Regions from separate parts of the Homo sapiens genome. Here region 2 is linked to region 1. Evidence: fine-mapped expression QTL. Tissue or cell type: whole blood. Region 1 holds a variant in brackets; the other region holds the start of a gene. All regions are shown on one strand. Distances are from middle to middle.

Region 1 (8,098 bases):
ATGAGAAAACTGAATGTCAAGGCCTCATGTCAAGGTATTTAACTCTGGCTAGAAAAATGGTGGAGCTGGGACTGGAAGCCAGGTCTGACTCAAAGCCGTCCATCCCAGCTCCTCAGCTACATGCCTCCCTGTGCAGGTGGCGTCAACTATCCAGGAAGCCAGGTGTGTGTGAGATCTGCACAGAGCTCTTTCTGGAAGGACATGACATCTGTCAAACCATTAACCTCAGATACTTCTCTGGGTGCCGAGGTTTCAACAAAGTTTTACTCTTTTCTTTGAACTTCTGTGAACGCTTCAGTATGTGCACCTTTACAAAACAACAAAGCCATTACAAAAAGGAAAATCTTTTCTTGGTCATTTGAAATGTTCTCTACCTTGATCTGCATGTTGGTTACATGGATGTGTATTATTTATCAAAACTCACTGAACTGCATGCACATTCAAGATCTATGCATTTTACTGTATGTAAATTCATACCTCAATTTTTAAAAAAGAAAGAAAAAATAAATAAGGAGGAAGCCCAGAGGGCTGAGCAGGGAAGCAGAGTATTCACCAGAGGAACCAGAATGTGCTGAAAGGTGTGGCCCAGGCACCTTCATGGGAGTGTTGGTTTAAGTACAAGTTGCCTGCAGGGCAGGGGCAGCATCAGGGAAGGCCCTCAGGAGGGAGGCCAGGTCCTCAGCAAACATACCCAGTGGGCGCAGACACAGGCCCTGCCCTGACGAGCAGGTGACTTCATACAAGCCCCTTTCCCTCTCTGGCCCTCAGTGGGAGTGTCCTAGCATTAAGCTCAAGAACCTAGGGTGCCAGGAACTTGACTAGAGGGTAAGGACTGAGAGGAGCGGCTGACAGAGTGTTCAGGGCTGGAGGGGACAGGGAGGGGCTGGGGCCTCCACACAGAGCCCTAGAGCAGGCACATAGCGGAGCGGTGGATGCGTGCCTCTGGGGCCCCACACACCCTTGTGATGGGGGTCTGTGTACTGTGCACCTCTAAGTACTGTCTGAGCGCAGTGCAGGTTTGCTTTTGTCAGAATGGGGAAGAGGGCCCCACAAATTCTCCTAGCAGTTCCCATGAGGTAGGAACCCGAAAACCCCGGAAGTCAGTTCCTAGGATGTGTTCATCTGGCACTTCAGCAGCCTAAGGCACTTGGCCACACATGGTTGGTGAGAAAGGAAAAGAGGGTAGCTGCAGATCGAAAGGGCACCGGCAGACAAGCAGGTACCATGGTCATGGGGCCTGTAGCCTCCACCAGCCTGAGGGGTACTGGCGCCATCATAAGGTGAAGCCAGAGAAGAAAGCCAGGTAAAAAAGGACAGGAGGTCCTGCCTGCCCAAGGAAGGAGGAAGAAATAGCACGTGCAGGAGAAGGAGCCACCAGCACCTGCAGAGCCTGCCCTGAATGCTGAGGTTGGGATGGGCCACCTGGACTGGGTATTGAATGGAGGGCCCTGTGGGGAGAGAGCACAGAAACAGGTGCATGCTGCCATCACCAGACCCCCACTGTGCCCTGCCTCGGCACAGGACCCGCAGCAACCAGGGGAAGCTCCTCATGCTTCCTCTGGGTCACCCACAGGCAAAGTCTTTCCAGGTGTGCTCACAAACCATTCTTCCAGCCCCCAGAACCATGCAGGAACCCGTCACTCAGCTTCGGTGCATCAAGAAGGCCTTCTCTGCAAATCCACCTCCTCACACAAGCAACTTTCCAGACCCCCTGGGGGGTGGCTGATTCTTCTCTGGAAGCACAGCTCTACACACACATGCACACAGCTCTGTGTTCTGCTGCACACACACTCATGCTTGCTGAACCACACAGCCAAGAGGCTGACCAGGCTGCCCACGCTCTTGGCTCTCATGCCTGGCTCTGGCAGCCTGATTTTAACTATGGACTTGGACTGAGGTTCCCACCCCTGAGCCTCCCACTTTGCCCAGGATGCGGCCCCTCGAAATGGAAGAGATGTAGCCACTAGGAGGAAGACTCTGGAGTCAAGAGGCTGCTCCAGTGTGGCCTGGTATTGGTGCTCTGGGGAATAATCCAATCAGCCAGATTCAGACCTACCCCAGCCAGACACTCTACCAGCTTCCCTGCCCCTGCAAGTCCACGTGTTGCCAGCAAAAAGCTCTCGCCCTCTCCAGGTCAACAGCAGAAACTCTAGGCTACCTTGCCCTGCTCCTGCCCAGTCATCTCAAGGAACAGGTTTGGCAAGACTGGAGTGTTCAATGAAGAAGCATGAGATATGTCAACAAAGAGCTGGTGGTAGGCAGCTCTGCTCTGTCTCACTGTCTGCCTGTCACCAGTCCCAAGGGCCTGCGAGAAACCCCGATGCCTGCGGCCAGATCTGGCAGGTAAGCCGGGGCAACCCCAGGGAATCCAACTGCTTCCCCATAGTTCCCTGGGGGAGCAGGCTGGAGGAGCTGCCCAGCTCTGAATGGAGAGGTATTTTACTCTGGCCAGCCATGGGGCAGGGAGCAGCAGGAGGGATATCGGGACAGGAGGAGGGATAACAACAGAGGGCACCCTCTCTGGCCACTGACTGGCGTCTGACCCCTTGAGCTACTTGGGCAGTTCCCTTCAGCCCCCTTGGGTTTGGCTCTGCTACTCCTAGGGCTGATGACCCCACAAGACACACAGGTGGGCTGTGCTGGCCAGGCTTGGACAAGGCAGGAGAAAGTAGAGGATGGGAGGCCGGGAGACACTGAAGGACCTGTGGTCCTGCTAGTCAAGCCCCCATAGGCCCAGGGCACAGGGCCCAAGGCAGTCAGGGAAATGGTCTGAGTGTCCCCTCCTGATGACCAAGAGCAGGGAGGTAGCCTACTGAGCCCAGGAAAGCAAAACCTGAGTGGTCATCAAGAGAAAGAGCTGGAATAGGGGGTACCAAATCTGGCCATTCCACTGAGGGCTGCTCAGGGCTGGAGCCTCAGTTGTACAGACCCTCCAGGAGACACAGGTACCCAGGACTGGGCCGGTCTGGCCTGCTGGGGCCTGGGCAGTTGGGCACATGACTGGAGGTTTCATGGACTGCTCATCCTGTGAGGTTCAGGTGAGCACATGGAGGATTGCCGCCATGGGGAGGACGCCAAGAGATGCGGAAGGGAGGGCAGGGCAAAGGAAGGGAAACTTACGTCAAACTTTCCAGGGTTCTGCTGTAACTTCACCTTGCCTCCTGACAGGTACTGCCAAGCACGGCCCCGCAGAGAAGGCGGGATGCCCTTTTGGCACCGCAGACGAATCTGAAAATCAAAAGGACAGCTGAGCCCATGCAGCCACCCAGGCAGCTCCCCTAGCCCAGCCCCTCTGCCAATGCGTGGTGGGCCCTCAGTGCACACAGCAGCAAGAGCAGAAACAGGGAGAAAAGAGGACTTTCGCCGGGCAAGGTGGCTCACGCCTGTAATCCCAGCACTTTGGGAGGCCGAGGCGGGTGGATCACCTGAGTTCAGGAGTTTGAGACCAGCCTGGCCAACATGGTGAAACCCCGTGTCTACTAAAAATACAAAAATTAGCTGGGTGTGGTGGCGGGCGCCTGTAATCCTAGCGACTCGGGAGGCTAAGGCAGGAGAATCATTTGAACCCGGGAAGCAGAGTTGCAGTGAGCCAAGATCGTGCCATTGCCCTCCAGCCGGGTGACAAGAGCAAAACTCTGTCTCAAAAAAAAAAAAAGGACTTTTCCTACTGTTGCTACCATGCCAATCCTATGGTGCGGGGAGAGGAGGTGCCTGCAATTAGATATGCTAACACCAGGTGATGGCAGGGTCCCACATCCCTGGTGACAACACAGGCATTCCTGAGGTTTGCCATGGAATTCCAGACCCTCATAACTATCTTCTGAATCAAAATGGAACCCTATAGGCGGGCACGCTGGCTCACACCTGTAATCCCAGCACTCTGGGGAGCCGAGAAGGGCAGATCACTTAAGGTCAGGAGTTCGAGACCAGCCTGGCCAACATGGTGAAACCCCGTCTCTACTAAAAATACAAAAAATTAGCCAGGCATGGTGGTGGGCGCCTGTAATCCTAGCTACTTGGGAGGCTGAGGCACGAGAATCGCTTGAACCCAGGAGGTGGAGGTTGCAGTAAGCTAAGATCGTGCCACTGCACTCCAGCCGGGGCGACAGACCGAGACTCTGTTTCAG[GA/G]AAAAAAAAAAAAAAAAGGAAAAGGAACCATTACAAGTTGGGTGAACCCCATAGTCTGTCACCAGGGAGGGCATTGCACTGTGTGCGGCTCAGCTGCAGCCACAGGGAAGGTAGCTCATGAGATGAACCAGAATGTGCCCAGAGGTGTGGCCTGGGCACTTTCACGCAGGTATGTTGGTTTCAGCAGCCATGTGGCAGGATACCGCCAGCCTAGAGGGGAGAAATCTCAGCAGAACTCTGAAGGAAGATGGGAGCTGCTCAAATGGCTCCCTCTTTGTTTTGGTCAAGAATCCCCACTCTCCTCTCGTTGACCCTGAGCTCCCAACATCACCAGCCTGGGGCATAGGCAGCTGGCCTGAGTGTGAGTCCTGATCTCAGCCCTTGCTAAAATGGCCCAGGTCTTCTCTGCCACTCGTAGAATGGGAGAAGTGAGGGAGGAAGTATTTGAGGCAGCTCATGACCCAGAGCTAGTGCTCAATTCCGGCTAGCTGTTTTTATCAGGAAAAGTTTTCACTGGCAAAACTCAATTTGAAAAACTATCAAAACGATCATGTCTTTTACAAATGGGGCATTGAGGGTAGGGGAAAATTCGTGGGGGAAATTTCATCACACAAGCAGAGTGGGGGTAAATTTGTCATACAATCAGAAACCCTACTACCTCCTAGCTGCACCGCACAGGCTGGAGGGACCCAGCCCCGTGTACTTTCTACATCACCAGTGGGCTCCTCCTGGGCTTGGGACCAGAATGAGGCTCTGAAGGCAGTTGCCCTGACCCGTCAAGGTGGGCAAGGACAAAGGCAGAGGCATCACTCCTGTGAAATGCTGTGGTGGGGGAGGGGTGAGATGGCCAATGATACTCCCTCAACCCCTGCACTAAGCAGCCTGACCTGGGATAAAGGGGATGGGCGCTCGGGGCATGAGAAGAACATCTGGATGTGGGTTTGAATCTAGCGCTGACCTTAAGCCAACCACTTCTCAACTGTAAGATCTGAATAATACCTACTACTGTGCAGAGTTGTCAAAGGAGTCCATTAGAGAGGGAAAATGTGCTTAGTGTGGGGCCTGACACAGTCTGTGTTCAGTAAGCAATGGCTTCCTCTCTGCCCCTCCATCCCAGGAGGATGCTTGACACAGAAGCCCAGGACCTCAGCTCACACCTAACTTCCCCTCACCTAGAAACCCCCTTCAACAGTCCTGCTGGAAGCTCTCAGAGGAGGGAGTACAGAAGCCCTGGCCTTCCTGGGGACCAGTGCAAACAAGAGAAAACTTTCCAAGGGTCAGAGAGAGTCAAGAACCAGGAAGGAGCCAGGCAAACAGGCTGAGGGTGGTGGGGGAAGAGTAGCAGTGGCTGGTCACAGGTGCCAAGTGAGAGCTTCTGGGACTGCCTAGAAAGGAGGCAGAGGAAGGGGGCTGAAGGGAACTGCACTAGACGCAAGGAAGAGTTTCCTGCGGCTATGGGACAAGGGTCTCCTTAAGGAAGCCAACTTGGGCAGGCTTTGGCAAAGGGATGTGCTTTAGCCCAAAGCCACAGGCCCTTCAGGCTCTCCCACAGAGCTAAGCTCAGCAAGAGGCAGCCCCACATCATCACAGCCCCCATCATATTTGGCCTTCTCCAGGAGAGCCCTGGAACACTTCGCGGGCAGCAAAGAGCTGGGAGTACAGCCAGCCTTTCCCACTCTGGCCTCCTCAGCATAAAGGTGCTGGAGGGGGTCATCTCTACCCTGCCTGCCTTAGGGAGGATGGTAGGGACCAGTAAGGATAAAGCATGGGAAAGTATTCCCAGAAACCACAGAGGATTACCATTCTCTGAGGCCAGGCCTTGGGAAAGGAGGTCTCTGATGAAAGCTGAGTGAGGACACACCCTTGCCTGCTGAACTCTGTGAGGGCAGGGCCCTGCGGGAAGACAGCATTCCAGCCCCAGCCCTGCCTCCCTGCAGGACCAGAATTCTGTCCTAGACATGGCTGGGAGTCTCCGGAAAGGAAGGCACCCTCCCAGCAGGACTATGTATGAGTCCAGGAGAAGTGTTGGGTCTGAGCCCACTTCCTGAAACAGGTATTATACTTCCTGTGCCACGACTTCCTGACCAGAGGGAGAACTCAAGCCTCCACAGGCAGGAAGAGCCCCGAGGGCAGGGCCCAGTATGGCCACAGCTGAGATGGCACGAGGGGCACCCAGTGGATGGTTCTGGGCTGGAGAGAAGCAGTGAGTTAGGGCCTCTGGGCACGGTGGATTGAAGCACTTCCTCTGGAGGCCTCAGCTGGGCAGGGGCAGGTCTTGGGCTCTAACCACAGTGCCAGGAAAGAAAAGGGGAAGTGTCAGCTGCTACTCTGCTGAGAGGTGCTCCCCGAAGCTCCCCTCTGGAATCCCGATTTTCAAGAACACGGAAGGTCCCTGCCAACCACCAGTCACCATAACAGATTGCTGGAGAGCAAGCTACAGCTCACAGTAAGAGCCAGAGGAATGATGAGGCAGGGAAACAGAGCCAGAGTCAGGCAGGAAGCAGGTGAGGAATAACTGTCTTAACATTGTTTTTTAAAAAAGAGATAGGCTGGGTGCAGTGGCTCATGCCAGTAATTCCAGCACTTTGGGAGGCCAACGCACATGGATTGCTTGAGCTCAGGAGTTCCAGACCGGCCTGGGCAACATGGTGAAACCCCATCTCTACAAAAAATACAAAAATTCGCCACGTGTGGTGACGTGCCTGTGGTCCCAGCTACTTGGGAGGCTGAGGTGGGAGAATCACTTAACTCCAGGAGTTCGAGGCTGCAGTGAGCCAAGATCATACTGCTGCACTACAGCCTGGGTGACAGAGTGAGACCCTGTCTCAAATAAATAGTTAGATAGATAGATAGATAGACAGACAGACAGACAGACAGACAGACAGACAGATAGATAGACAGATAGCTATAGAGAATAACAAGCAAGAGCCCAGGTCTGGGTGAGCCTCTCCTCTCATAGCACAGGGCTTCACCATCTACGATACAGTCTACGAAGCACTTACCACCACTTCGTGGGGAGCAACAGGATTATCACTCCCATTTGGCCAGAGAAGCTGAGGCTGAGAGGGTGAAGTGACTTGCCCAGAAGTTCCACAGTTAGCCACAGGTGTGAAGAGAGGAAAGGAGTGGGGCTGGGCCCAAGTCTATATGCCTGACTGTCAGTCCTGAGCTTTCTGTGAGGCCCGGCAGCCAGCTGTGCCAGCCTGGATCAGACCAGAGTGTCAGCTGATGAGAGTGGGCAATAGGGTTCATTCTGTGCATTAGGAACTTGTACAGAGAGACCCTAGCTGTAAGGCTCGGAACAGGCCTCCTCTAGGCCAGGTGGTAACACCATGCTGAGGGCAGCCAAGGATATCAACACACACACACACTTAAGAGTGGTGGGCAAGAATGTTCCCACAGGGCAATAGAGCTAGTGTCTAAAGACAGCCTCACTTGAAAAGGACTACTGGGTGATTTCATTTTCGTAAGACTATCATTAAAGTGTGAAGTTACTTTCTTCTTTCTTTGGCCAGGAGTCAAGAGGGAAGTCATCAAGTTAATCTAGAGGGTAAAGAAGGCCTCGTACTGTGGTGGCTAAGAGGGCAGGTGCTAAAGGTACACTGCTTGGGTTCAAATCTTGACCAGGTCATCTGTAAAGTGGGGATACTACTATTACTAACCTCACACTAGGGTGCTGTAAGGAATTATCCCAGGCAAGTGCCAAGCACAAAGCAAATGTTCCATACACGCTAGTTACTGGCAGTATTGTAAAGTCCTCCTTGATAGTTGGTAAGCAGCACTTAAGTCCTTCCCCTGGGAAGGCTAGAAGAAAGCTGTGTTATGGCTGTTGGCTAAGAGTGGCTTTGAGGTTTAGCTCCAGGACAATGTTCTGCATGAATCTGAAGTCATTGTGTTAGGGCCCAACCTTCCCCCTGCCTTCAAGCCAGCTTCTGTCCTGCACTGGCAGTTGGAGGACACCTAAGGCATC
Region 2 (8,100 bases), 130 kb after region 1:
CTAGATTAAGTTTCAGAAGGTCAAGGATCATTACCTAGGCTACCTTCATCCCCATGACCTGCCACACTGCCTTGCTCAGTCACTAAACATCAACAAAAATCACTGTCCCCAAGCCCTTTGCCAGAACTGCCTGAATGTCTGTCTGGTTTCTGCCTTCCCTCAGATGTCCTGCGGTTTGACAACACCTACAGCTTCATTCATGCCAAGAAGGTCAATTTCACTGTGGAGGTCCTGCTTCCAGACAAAGCCTCAGAAGAGAAGATGAAACAGCTGGGGGCAGGCACCCCGAAATAACACCTTCTCCTATAGCAGGCCTGGCCCCCTCAGTGTCTCCCTGTCAATTTCTACCCCTTGTAGCAGTCATTTTCGCACAACCCTGAAGCCCAAAGAAACTGGGCTGGAGGACAGACCTCAGGAGCTTTCATTTCAGTTAGGCAGAGGAAGAGCGACTGCAGTGGGTCTCCGTGTCTATCAAATACCTAAGGAGTCCCCAGGAGCTGGCTGGCCATCGTGATAGGATCTGTCTGTCCTGTAAACTGTGCCAACTTCACCTGTCCAGGGACAGCGAAGCTGGGGGTGGCGGGGGGCATGTACCACAGGGTGGCAGCAGGGAAAAAAATTAGAAAAGGGTGAAAGATTGGGACTTAACACTTCAGGGAAGTCAGCTGCCGGGGAGAAACTTGCTCCTAAATGAACACATAAGTTTAGATCGCAATGAGGAGTAGCAGGGTAGCTGGTTGCTAGAGTTACGGTGGGGATCAGAAACTCTTCCAAACATTTTAGCACTGAGGCTGGGGTAGCTTTTGGCTTTTCCCAGGTCTCAGGAGGTGGCCTGAGTCAGCACACATCTTCCCACTCGGTAGACAGGCTGGCCTCTCCCTCACTTTGAGACTTTGGCAACTCCTGGGCCACACGGCCTGCCTCTTTGATTACTAATGATTGTCAGTGACTCAGAGCTTCCTGGGACTTCGGGTACCCACCCGCTGTTCTCCATGCAAACAAAGCGCCAGGGAAATGACCCACAGGGATCGCAGCTGCAGGGAGGGCCAGGGAGGTTGGGGGTGGGAGTGAATGCTAAAAGCAGATCGTCCAGTGCCCTTTTCAGTGCTACCGGCCTCTCACCAAGCAGTCCTCCATGTGAGCAACCCCGAGACAAAAATGCTAAGTGGGATCAAGAGAGCAGCACTCGGAGAGGGTGTTTGCCAGTCTGAGTGTCCCGCGGTGCCCGCCAACCCGCTTCCTGACTGACCTGAGCAAGGTCTTACTAAGCAGTCCCATCTCTGTGGGAGGCATGCAACGCGTGCAGGGAGTTCAGGTGCCGGTCGGCGTAGCCAGGCCTGGAGGCCCCCCAGGCAGGAGGCCGCCCAAAGGCGGGGCCGGCGTCTCGCAGACTAGGGGCTGGGGGCGGCCACAGACGGCCTCGAAACCACAGCCCTTACCCCAATCCCACGAGCCCCGCCAACGAACCACAGGTGCTGGGCTTTAGAGAACATGGGAAGGCGGCCCCAGACCTGGCGGGAACGCCTTTCCCTCAGAGCCAGGCCCCGGCCCCGTCTGGGAAGCTCATCTTGCGAAGCTGAGGGAGCTCAGGGCAAAGGCCAGGCTAGCGCGGACCGGAAGGGGCCGAGGCTGCACGGGCCTCTGCCAGAACGCTCAGGACATCCCGGCCTGGGTTTACAACGCTGTTAGGAAAATTAACCAATGAATAAAGCAACGTTCAGTGCGCAGGGAGTGAAATTCAATGCCCACCGCTAGGCTCCTCGCTGCCTCTCACTCAAGAGGCCCAAACTCAGACGGCGTCAGGGACCCGGACCCAGCAGCCGTTTCACGCCAATAGATAGGGCGCATGCGCAGAAATCCTCCTCGGCTCTCTAGCGTGAGCTTTCCCAAGGGGCCACGCCCAGCTTGCCTTCTGATTGGTCCAGCTGGTGGGTTGTCTTCCGCCATCTTTGATCAGGGCACTAAGGATGCTCCCCACGGCCTTCACAGTGACGGCGGAGACCCTGCCCCGCCAGCTGCTCAGTACGTGCCGCGTAGCCCGTGCGAGCCAAGTGTGAGTCCGGGCGAGCGCCTGCGGAGCTAGCACTGGGCCCAGAATGAGAGGGAGGCGGAGGAGCAGCGATCACGTGGTTTTAGGGACTGTCTAATAATTCCACGCCAGCATTGCCGGTGTTTCAGGGGGTGGGAACCGCTGCGTTCCCCATCAACTTTTCTCCCACCCACCACCCTCCCCAACCTACAAGCCCAGCTCAGCTTGAGGTAACTGCTGACCGGACTGTCCTATACAGCCCTACAAGACAGAGGCGCCTAGGGCTGAAAGCGGGGGCCTCCGTAGGGAGCCAGCGGGGGCCTCAATAGTTACTCATTTTCTCTACCTTTGATGAAAATAAGAGCTAATTCTTAATAAGGCCTACCGGGTATCACGCAAAAACCCTGTGCTTACTATTACACTTTGGGTTGTTGCAAAGATTAAAGGAAATAAGCCGTGCAAAGCGCTTAAGAGCTTGGTATAAGTAAGTGCTCGTCAATGTTGGCTACTCTCATTTTTTTTGCAGACGTGGGAACTGGGGCTCAGGGAGGCTAACAGCCAGTAGGCGGCACAGCTAGGATTTGAACCCAGGATTGTCTCCAACGCCGCTCAATTATACCCGCCAAGGAGTCACAGAGACTTAGTGAAGTGCACACATTGCTCACCTGGGTGAACTGAGGTCCAGCGGGGGAAGGCTTCCTCCTGTTGTAATCACTAACCCCAACTCTGTCTCCCTTGCCCGATTCATTCATTCGTTAATTAATTCATCCAACATCCTGTCCCCAAGAAGCTCAGTCTGGGGACATACTGATCCAGTTAAATGCGAGTGCTTCCTAGTTATACATGGCGACTGCTGAGAAGGGACTCCAGAGTCCAGGCACCTACCTCCCAGGGGCTCACCGTTCACTCCTCTAGCCTCATTTAGAGCTCGCATTAAGAGCACGGGATCTGGATCCACACTGTTTGGATTCAAATCACAACTTCACCACTTAGCAGCTGTGTGTTCTGGGAAAATGACCCACCTTCTCTGTGCCTCCATTTTCTCACCTGTAAAACGGGCTCCCAGGCTGGTGGGAGGGTTTCAGGTGTAAGACATGGAGAGTCCTTTAGCGAACATGTAGACTGGCAATAAACTCAATAAATGGTGACTGTTATAATTAATCCTCGGAACCATCCTAGGGAGTGGACACTATTGTGTTCCCCATTTTATTTATTACATTAATTTTTTTTTTTTTTTTTTAGTAGAGACGAGGTCTCGCTATGTTGTCCAGGCTGTTCTCGAACCCTTGGGCTCAAGAGATCTTCCCGCCTCCGGCCTCCCAAAGTGCTGGGATCACAGGCGTGAGCCAACGGGCCCAGCCTGTGTCCCTCCCTCGTTTTTACAAATGAATAAAGAGATGCTGGATAAGCCCGAGGTCACAAGCTTTGCAGTGTAGCATCCCCCAACTTGATCCCCTGTCTCTTTGGCTCCAAAACCTACACTCAGTCCTGGGAGCGATTAGCGCCAACAGCTCAGAGAAAACGTGACGAAAACCAGTCTGTAAAACCCGAGCCTGGGAGAGGGGCTTCGGTGCGCGGGGGGAATTTGCAGACGCTCCCTGCTGGCGGAGATTTCCTGACCTGTCCTTCGGCGCGGGACTTTCGGCGGGTCCCGGCCGGGCAGACCCAAGTGCCGGCGGCGGAGACTGCAGTGGAGCCAGTACCGGCTGTAGTGGCCGGGGCCGTGGCGGGAGAGTCATGTCAGAGCCGCAGCCGCGGGGCGCAGAGCGCGATCTCTACCGGGACACGTGGGTGCGATACCTGGGTGAGCGCGGGGCGACGGGCGCGGCGACCCCACCACCACTGGGCTGGAGAAGCAGGGGTCGCCGGACGCCCGCCCGGGGCCTGGAGGAGGCGGGATGATCTTAGTTCTCATTCTGCTTTTGGGCCGGAGACTGGGCTCAGACAGGGCTAGGGACTTGCCCAAGGTCACACTACCCTGGTGGGTCGCCCAGGGCGGAAGCTCCCATGGGGTGAGCGGGCTGCCCGCTCTGGCATGCGCTCTGGCTGGCTGTGGAGTCGGGATCTCCACTCCCATTTCGGTCCTGACACGCACTGGCTCTGTCTGAACCTCAGTTTCCTCCTCGGCAAAAAAACAAAAACAAAACAAAAAACAAACGAGATACACACGAGGGCCTCTCTCATTGGGTGGTGGTTGCGAGGGTGGAATGGGATAAAGCGCAGAAAGCCCTGGCACTTGGCGAGCGTCTGGTCAGTGGCGCTGCCCTCGATCACTCTGCCCCTCTGGGTGCCTGTCACCTCATTAGTGCAGTTACTCCTGGGACCAAGACCAGGAAATCTAACCAATAAGCAATGGTAACAGTGACTCAGTGCTCAGTCCGCCCTCAGTGGCCCGAGTCCGAGGTGGGCATCATGGCACCAGTTTACATCTCGGAAAGGGAGGCTCAGAGAGGTCAAGTCACTTGCCTAAGGTCACCCAGGGACTGCTTAGCTGGCTAGGATGAGAACCAGCCTGCTCCAACGCCCCCTCGTGGAACAGTTGCGAGCCTAGGAATTAAATGTTCCCTCCCCCAGGCTATGCCAATGAGGTGGGCGAGGCTTTCCGCTCTCTTGTGCCAGCGGCGGTGGTGTGGCTGAGCTATGGCGTGGCCAGCTCCTACGTGCTGGCGGATGCCATTGACAAAGGCAAGAAGGCTGGAGAGGTGAGTGTTAGCCTATTTTCCAACCCCCAACCCTAGCTCTCTTCTTGTGTGGTTCAGTCCACAGCCTTGCATGTGATAAAGTCCCTGTGGGACACTCCAGTCCCTACAACCTTGCCTAGTGCAGTCCATAGACAGTCCTGTTTGTAGGACAGTGTACCCCTGCCCCCACACTCCCACTCCCCGAACTGGATGTGGCAGACTGTACCCCACTCCTGGGTGCGGACAAGTCCACTGGCCACTTGCCCCTCCCGGTCTAGCCTCGTGCCCCTTGTCGCAGGATTTTCTGCCTCTGCCCCAGCTGGATTAAGTGTCTCTGCGCCCACCAGGTGCCCAGCCCTGAAGCAGGCCGCAGCGCCAGGGTGACTGTGGCTGTGGTGGACACCTTTGTATGGCAGGCTCTAGCCTCTGTGGCCATTCCGGGCTTCACCATCAACCGCGTGTGTGCTGCCTCTCTCTATGTCCTGGGCACTGCCACCCGCTGGCCCCTGGCTGTCCGCAAGTGGACCACCACCGCGCTTGGGCTGTTGACCATCCCCATCATTATCCACCCCATTGACAGGTGGGTACCTTCTTGGCCTCAGGGATCATCCACTCTCCAGTGATGAGAGTGGATCATCCAGTCTCCAGGTAGAGCTAGACTCTGTGAAGTGTGGGGTATGCCCACTTTGCTGGAGCAATAGCAGGGACAAGGCTGGCACTTGGCTCCTGGGTTAGAAAGGACAGCCTGTACCCTTGTCATATGGTATGGCAGGCACTTTAGCAATAAAAGAAGAGGGGTGCGTTGAGGGTATGGGACACAGGACAAGTAAATTCCCAGAAAGAAAGTCTAGTGTTACAAAACAACCAGAGAGAAGCAGGAGCAGGTGCACCCTAGAGGGGATGCATTTTGGGAGGTATTGGTGACAGAAGCCTAACTCAAACTGAATATTTGAATAAAATGGAGTAAAAGTCCAGGGCTGTGTTGCATTCAGGCATGGCTAGATCTAGGTACCCAAATTATGTCATTAGGGGTCTGGGTCTCCCCATCCTGCTGCCTTTCTCCCCACCCCACCCTATTTCTTGCTGGCTTCACCTGCTTTCTCCTTGTGGGAGTAGAAATGGCCCTAGCAGCTCCCAAGTTCTATCCCACCAGCTTAGCCTCCCCCAGCAGAAGCTTTTAAACAGTAACAACAAAAATCCCAAGGAAGGGTGTCATTGGTCCATTCTGGACTGCATGCCCACCCTATGAGCCAGTTTCCCTTTGCTGATTGGCCAGGCTTGGGTCACGTGCTTGGTCTTAGAACTAGATATGGGCTCAACCCAACCAGACCAATGTAAGAGTGAGAGGAGCAGTCTTTCTCCAGGAGAAGATAGCTGACCCTGAGGCCCTGAGCAAGTCTTTTACCCAGTACCTCAGTTTCCTCCTGAATAAAGAAGAGGATGGCTTCTATTCTGGGAGTTTGATTCTAGCTTCCCCAGGTAGCCCAAGGTGGAAGGATCAGGATAAGGGTGGGTCTCTGGCTGGATGGCATTTGTATCCTGCATCTAAGCGCCCCTTTCCCTAACCCTGGCCTTCTGCCTTCTGTTCCCTCATGAACACCCTTGGTCACCTGCTCACCACCCTTCCACTCCCTACAGGTCGGTGGATTTCCTCCTGGACTCCAGCCTGCGCAAGCTCTACCCAACAGTGGGGAAGCCCAGCTCCTCCTGATCATACTCTGGTACCTGGCCTGTGCATCGGCCTCCTGCTTCATGTCAACCTCCTACTCCTGCCAGGGAATGTGGACACCTGGCTCCCTGGTGTCCAAAGACCCTGGCACCTGGGTGGGTTTGAGCTGGACAGAAGCTTAGAGACAAAGGCTTCAAGAAGCAGTGGCTGCAGGGAGTCACAGAAGGGCAGGACCTGAACGCTGTCTGCTTCCCTGGAATCCAAGATGCTGAGTGGAAGTGGACCCTGGGTGGGCCCGGCCCTGTCTTTTTCAGGAAAATTACATCCTCCCATGGAGGATGAGAGACTGAGGCTCAGGGAGGGCAAGGAATAGGCCCAAGATCACTTGGCAAGCTGGGCACCCAGGACCCCCAGGTGCTTGACAGAGTCACCCCATGGTGGTATGGCTGAACAAGGAGCGGCAGACAACTCAGGGAGAAACTCAGGAGTGCAGTACCAGGGACACCTCAGGACAGATTCTCTGGCCAGGCCCTTCCCTGACCCAATAAATCCTGAAGAGGTTGTTATGTCTTCATTTCTGTTTGGGAGGAGCAGGGATGTGGTGGTGGGGAGGAGGGATGGGTAGCAGTCTCCCCGCCCATTAGTGCTTCCCTGCAGGTGCCTGGCATCCCACGTTGGTGCTGCCAGCCTCCTTTGGGGTAGGCATTACCCTTTACTTACTTACTTTTAATAGAGATGGGGGTCTCCCTATGTTGCCCAGGCTGGCCTTGAATGCCTGGGCTCAAGCAATCCTCCCACCTCAGCATCCCAAACTGCTGGGATTATAGGAATGAGCCACTGCACTCAGCCTGGCATTGCCCTCTTTTTCTAGCCTCCTAAAGCACCAACCCCTCTGGGAGGGGAGCCTGTTGGGCAGATACCACCTGAGCCTGAAGGTGGCCAAGATGGTGGTGTCAGCCCCATATGAGGGTCACATGAGACCTCCTCATGAGGGGACTCGGCAGCCTGGAGAAGGAAGTGACCAGGGGGCTTCTTACACTCAGAATCAGGGAATGGCCTGTTTTCCTTGTGGCTTCCCCTGAGCTGCTGGGCTCGAGAGTGCTAGAGGGGGCCATTCCTCTGATCCTGGGCCATCCCCCTCAACAGCTCAGAGAGGTAGAGAGGTGGGAGCACAGGGCTGAAGCAGACCTGGGCCCCTCTCAGCCCTGCCCCAAGCACCAAATCAGCTCCCACCAAGACCCTGGCCCCATCCCTTGCAGCCCAGGTGCAGTCAGGTAGGCTGACCCTGTCCTGGTGGGACTCACCTGCACCTGGGCTGGGACTTAAAGGGGCTGCAGGGCTGGGTAGGGGTGCTGCCAGCAAGACAGGATGGGGGCTCCGGGGTGGTGGCCCCTGCTGCTCTGGGGGTATCCATGGCTACAGGATGAGTCTGATGTGGGCTGAGCCTTTCTCTGCTACTCTTATTGTCCCACACTGGCAAGGTCCCCTTCCCAAGCCCCTATGGCCTCTGCCCAGTCACCTGTCACTCCCTCCCAGCTCCCTTAAAGGCTTTAAGCCCCGCCTTGTTCTCTAGCCCCCGACCCCACCCCCCATTCCCTGTCTGAGCTGGCACTCACATCCTTCTCCAGCCCAGCATTTTCCCAGCTCATCTTCTCCCCCGGCAGTCACAGCCCCATGCGGGGTACATTCACACCTGCATCCCTGTGACATCTCCTGGCATC

Evidence for each region. PIP is the estimated chance that this variant, and not a neighbour inherited with it, causes the effect.
Region 2: MTFP1 starts here. The variant in region 1 is fine-mapped to the expression of MTFP1 in whole blood (INTERVAL, PIP above 0.99).

Annotation. Positions count from the first base shown.
Region 1 is chr22:30,296,324-30,304,421 of GRCh38, forward strand. TBC1D10A (TBC1 domain family member 10A) reads right to left here. Exons shown (of 9, transcript NM_031937.3): 3 at 3,121-3,228. Among named protein-coding and RNA genes, the nearest start is that of CASTOR1, 11 kb to the left of the region's middle. RefSeq lists an enhancer at 6,210-6,299 and a silencer at 6,460-6,509. The variant GA/G (reference allele first, on the strand shown) is at 4,128.
Region 2 is chr22:30,422,114-30,430,213 of GRCh38, forward strand. MTFP1 (mitochondrial fission process 1) reads left to right here and starts at 3,655. Exons shown (of 4, transcript NM_016498.5): 1 at 3,655-3,833; 2 at 4,604-4,731; 3 at 5,058-5,290; 4 at 6,349-6,941. The coding sequence starts at 3,767. The coding sequence ends at 6,421. It overlaps SEC14L2 (SEC14 like lipid binding 2), which reads left to right. Exons shown (of 12, transcript NM_012429.5): 12 at 164-3,190. The coding sequence ends at 294. RefSeq lists enhancers at 1-319, 3,915-4,473, 4,474-5,034 and a silencer at 2,188-2,297.